Linked DNA regions of Homo sapiens: region 1 is linked to region 2. Evidence: fine-mapped expression QTL. A gene starts in region 2. The other region holds a variant in brackets. All regions are shown on one strand. Distances are from middle to middle. Region 1 holds the start of ZNF705A (zinc finger protein 705A). Region 2 holds the start of CLEC4A (C-type lectin domain family 4 member A).

Region 1 (2,918 bases), 33 kb before region 2:
TTTACTTAAATGGATATATTTTGTGGTATACAAATTTTACTTCAACTGATTCAAAAAGAAGGCAATGAGCATGATAGAAACCATTTTCTCTTCTCCCTATACTCCTTCAATTCACCCAGAAGGAATTTCCATTAACAAGTCCAACATGTTTCCTATTTCTTCATTTCTCACAATATCCAAAACACTTTATATAGGGTCAAATGTTCTCATTATTTCCACTGGAGAGAATTAATTAATCAAAGGCCAGTATTCAAGTGTTGCTTTTCTCAAGGAAGTGAGAGGAAGGACTTCTTTTTTCCCCCTCAGGCAGCCTATACAATTCTCCCAAAAAGGGTTTCTATTTTAGACTTGGGTTTGGGCATAGTAGGAAATGCTTTTTGGCTTTAAATCCAATTCACATGTTTCAGTACAGCTTTACCAGTAATAAAGTGAGTGTTTAGATTGCTTCCTGATTCTTTTGCCTATTTCATAATTTACTTAGAATTCAGACTACAGTGTCATTTCAGCCTATTAAGTTTGAAATGCTTATTTAGGGTCTCCAGTTGAAGCAGCAGGACTTACATGGAATTCATAACAGAGAACAAGCTGAATAGGAATGTGGACATTAGAACAGGAAGTCTGATTACTCATGGCAAAGTTATACCTTTAAGCGGAATTGCATTTCAAAGTAGATCAGGAAAAACCCCTTGCAATTTTCCATTATGCAGATTTTTGACGAGTCACTGGAAAAGAGGAAGGTGGATTAGTTCCCTTAGACTTCATTATGTCTGTCAAGCTAAAGAGTTTCATGTTCTTAAAATCCTTCAGAACACAACCCTCTCACAGAGCAGCTTAACCGTAATGTCACCCTTATTCTCTCTCATGTGTTTTAAGATTAAAACTGGCATCATGATTCTGACTCAATGTCAATTCTCTCCAATCCTCCTGAATATACTCACTCTTCTACATATCCAATCCAAGAAAGAAAACTTTCCTATCTCAGAGCTTGCTTATATTTATTTTATCTGTTTATAGATTTACATATCTTTTCAATGTCCATCATATTAAAATGGAAAAGCTACAGTTCAGAGCAGGAACTCTGTTACATGCCTCATTG[T/C]TCCCCTAATACCAGGAAAATACTAATTACCCAATAAAAATTTGTTGACTCACTGGCTGCCTGTGTCTCTGTATTTTATTTCTGAAGAAAACTCATGGGCCTTTTTAGAGTTTCTGAAGTTTTCTGACTGCTATTACCTATTTTTTTAAAATAAGGAGTAATTTTTAACTAAACGAGGGAAGGTTTTAATGTTTTGATATATCTTAAACATCTCGCAATAAAAACTATCTTTATGTTTTTGGCGAGAACATGCACTGATATCTTTGTTTTCCACTTCATCTCTTTACTCCTTTAGTTCATTTTTTTGTGATTTGTGAAGACTCAACCCAATTTAATTACTATTCATTTTTCTTAGTCTATCTACTTCCCCTTGATTACTGATTTATTCTTAAACTCAATTCTCTCTAGCACTTGATCTTGAAAAATGAAATTGGAACTAACTTGGGTGACAATTCTGTTTCTTTCTAATATCCTAAAGTCTGTGATATTCTTTTTTTAACATCCAAAAAATTTTTTTATTTATCTAAATCGTCATGTTTCCAATTTACATAAGATAGCACCTTAGGTTACTCTCCCACAGACTCTTATTATATGTTTTTTATCACCATATCAGAAAGTAGACCTATTTTTTAAATCAGAAAAATAATAAAGCAGAGAAATGGGAGATCTTTAAAGCCTGTCACAATAGCAAACCTTAGATATTAATTTGGTGGTGCAGGAAACAAAAGATATATCTCACTGCCATATTCCTTGATGAAATTATTCTTTGAACACATTTTTCTCTAAAAGTATAAAAAACTCTCACATTAAGATTAAAGACACTAGTCTAGATATTATAATTATGGAAGATGCTAATTACTTTGAGTATGACTTTTTGATCCATTTAAGCACTGGCAACCCTAGAACTGGTAGTAGCAATTTGTTTGGTGAGTACCACATGCATGGATGAGTTCAGAACCAAAATTGGGAAAATACAGCTAGACTCAGGCAAATAAACTAAAAATGAGAGCCAATTATCAAAAAGCATATTTTAGTACTTTTAAGGTCAAAGAAGAAAAATAATCAAGTCTATAATACATATTTGAAATCTGTTTTTTTTTAAAGGTAGAAAAATTAGAGATTGGCATGTTAAGAAAAAGAGAAATATTTTGAGGGACATTTGTTTAAAAAGCTATATCATAAGTGATGAAAAGATAGTTCCATTTCAAGTAAGAATTTACAAAGTCAACTACAATGAAACAGCCACTGAGAAGTTGGGTGGAAACCACAGGGATACTCTCTGAGGCTTCTCTTGGGTCTACAAGCTCCTTCTATCAAATATGCAAGACCAAAAGCAGAGGTTTATACTTTTCTCAGTCAAAAGGCTTGGGAGACCAGTTACTTAGGAGTCTGGAGTATAGAAAATGATGACTAATAACCTAAGATTAATAATACTGGGGAAAATTTAAGCTAGAAGAATCCTAGAAACATCCTGTAATCAAATGGCCAAATACAAACTTAGGCAATACAAAGCAGTCTCAGCTTACTATTATCTTTTTCCTTCAAGAGCATCCTCCCTTTGATACCCTAACTTTCCCCAATTTTTACTATTTTCTTCAATTTTTCCACTCCCAAATTTGTTAGTTTTTCTTCTCCTCTCAGTTGCCCTTAAGTGTGACTTATTTTCCTAATTTCATCATTTTCTAACCTATTATCATGTTTCAATCTCTATTTCAGTCCTAAGATTATCTAACTTTACAATTCTTCCACTTTGTACATTTGTTTACTTTAAAAAAAAATCAGTCTTAGATTTAACATCAATTCCTAATCTTCCATTCTTGGT
Region 2 (2,918 bases):
AATTATGATTTTCTCTAGATGATAAGAGTAATTATAATTCAAATATCTGTGTACCTCTGGTTAATTTTTTCTACAATGAACATTAATACTTGTGTAATAAAGAAATTATATAAAGTTTTTAAGGAGAAAAAATTTCCCTAAGTGCTCTCCACACCTTCACAGAGGTATTTTAGAAAGCGTAACTATAGTCCTGACCCCTTCCCCCATAGTTTCTTGTACTCTATATACATTCTTTTCTCTCTTTTGCTCTATACTTGAGATATCACACATGACACCCAAATCACCTTGCATCTACTCCCAAACGTAACAGAGTCTGTCTCAGAGATGCAACACGCAATAGGTTCTCTGATTTCAGAAAAAGTTTCCTGGAGATTTAAGAGACTTTCTTTGTAGACTTTCTAGTCTTTCATTTGCAAAGGCCTTTTGTTACATTTCCATCCATTACCAACAAATATACCCTCACCACTGTCCACCCAAACTCTTTCCCTCTAACTGATCAAAAAACAAATCTCACAAATTCATCAGGACCCCCTGCATCTGGATTGATGGTTTCAGAAGCTGTACTCAATCTCTTAACCCCAGCCCCACTCAGCCTCAGAAAACACAGGGGCATCAGAGCACTCGCCTTAGCTCAGAACTGGAGTGGATTTCTCTCACCTCTGTTTCAGTAAGCAGAGTGGAGGCTGAAGAGAGTGGCACAAAATCTTTTCTTCTCCACAATACAAATGTACACCCCGTAATGCGTATCTGCAGGCCACTCAATCTTCTGGGACTCTTGTGTTTCCCAGACATACTCAATCAGACAACCAGCAACTGAAAACACCTATGCCTTATTCATAAACCCTCTCCTCATCCTTCACCTCGTCATTCACTCTGACCCCTAGAAAATGATCTTTACCTGCAGAAGAGGCTGTGTTGATGCCTGAGGACTTGAATTCATTTTTGAACCTCACTTCAGCATAAGTGATTTCCGAAGTCATAATGGGAAGAGAGCTTCTGCTTTCTTCAGAAAATCTGTTTCAGATCTTTCTTAAAACATCTTATAAACAGGAACCAAACATGGTGGTAAATTACCTCCTTCCTTTCACTCAACTAGTGGAGAGCAGAGGCACCAGATAGGCACATATCCTCAAGAGGGGTCTCATGAGAACTAAGAACCACAATAAAAACTAAAAACCGCAGTTCACAGAAGCCCTTTCCTCAGGACCAGTATAGTGAGAATCACAGCCTTGAAACAAATGCAAGCAAATGCAATAAAAGTGGGAACTCAAAGGGTTGCGGAAAGAGGAAGAAAAATAAAAGAAGAACCAAGCACTTAGAGTCTTTCTGGAGAACTGCGTTTTTCACCAGTAAAAAATACAATTTCTGTGCTTCCACACACAAATGTAATTACTTTTGACCAAACATCCTGAACATAGACTTATGTTGCATTCATCTCATCAATTTTGACTGATCAGGCAACTTGTTAGTACCACATTCTAAGAGTATCATTGACACAAAACTCACATATCAGCCTCCCCACCTTCACGAATTAGTTTCCTGTAGCATGGTGGGGATGGCAAAGTTTAAACCCCATGTCTTCTGAAGCTGTTCCTCCATGCTCTCTGTGTTTCCTTGTTGGTAACTAACTCTATCAAAAGTCTGCATTCATCTTGCTAGAATCTCCAGAAAGCAGCTCCCTTTACTGGATGTTGGAGGAGAGGGAAGGCCAGCCTTTATTCCATGCTTCCCTAACCTTTTAATCGCCACATCACCTCCAATATATATGACTATTTTTTAACAGTTAGGAGAATTATATAGAATCACAGTATAGAAGGGGATAAACTTAAACAAAGTACTAAATATGACTTTTTCCAAAGGCCTAGAAGAAAACACTCCAAATATTAAATCCTTCATGTGGAATCTCTCCATAGACATGCTCCCAGCTCACACCTGGATTCTCTGCCCTCAACTCTCCGCAAATGATCCTCCTTTTAATCTCCCCCAGCTGATTCCTTCTCCTGCATAACACACATGCATACATGCATGCACACACACACAAACACACACGTCTATATTTCTATATTATTTCTATATCTAAATATATTGAACACCATGAGTTCACACTAATTCCTCTAATTCCAATCTAACACCACAAGTTTCATTCTAGTTTTCTCCCTTCCCACATTCCTAACTCCTTTCTGTGACACTAAGAAACCTGCTTTCATTGTCTTTCACTTATTCCTTATTTGATCAATCTCCTGGATGTCGTCAATCTCCCACCTGCTAAGATGTCCCTCTCTTCCTAGTTGGGCTCTGACTCCCCAGTCCAAGCCACCATCCCCTGCGCGGATGCCCTCCCTCCTCACTCTGAGAGTGCCGGCAAAGGGCCAGCCCACTCCCCACCCCCATGAACATCCCCCAACAAACATCCCCCTCACCCTGCCAAGGCTCTGACTCCCTGTGCTAGGCCATTCCTCTGCAGGAAAGCCCTCCTCACTCTGCTTGCACTCTGATTCCTGATGCTGGTCCCCTAGTCACCACTTAGACCCCCTTAGGTTCTAATGCTCCACACAAGGTCACCCTATGGGTGGAAGCCCTCCTCACCCTGGAGGGGTCTGATTTCCTCACCGGGCTATCCTACCACATGGACCACCTCCTTATCCTGCTAAGTTTCTGAAACCCACACCAAGTCCTCCCTCTGCATAGAAGCTTTCTTCATCCTGCTTGGGCTCTGACACTCCATGCAGGTCCTCCATCCCCCAGCAATAATGTCCATCTTACCCTACTTAGGATCTGAGTTCCCTCACTGGGCTACCCCACCACATGGACACCCTCCTTATCATGCTTGGTCTCTGAAACCACACCAGGTCTACCCTCTGCAAGGATGCTCTCTCTCCTCATCCTGCTTAAGTGCTGAGTCCCAACCCCAACTGGGC

The links. PIP is the estimated chance that this variant, and not a neighbour inherited with it, causes the effect.
Region 1: its variant is fine-mapped to the expression of CLEC4A in whole blood (TOPMed, PIP 0.99).

Annotation. Positions count from the first base shown.
Region 1 is chr12:8,154,818-8,157,735 of GRCh38, reverse strand. ZNF705A (zinc finger protein 705A) reads right to left here and starts at 721. Exons shown (of 6, transcript NM_001004328.3): 1 at 644-721. The variant T/C (reference allele first, on the strand shown) is at 1,097.
Region 2 is chr12:8,121,941-8,124,858 of GRCh38, reverse strand. It overlaps CLEC4A (C-type lectin domain family 4 member A), which reads right to left and starts at 1,242. Exons shown (of 6, transcript NM_016184.4): 1 at 899-1,242. The coding sequence starts at 980. RefSeq lists an enhancer at 1,323-1,372.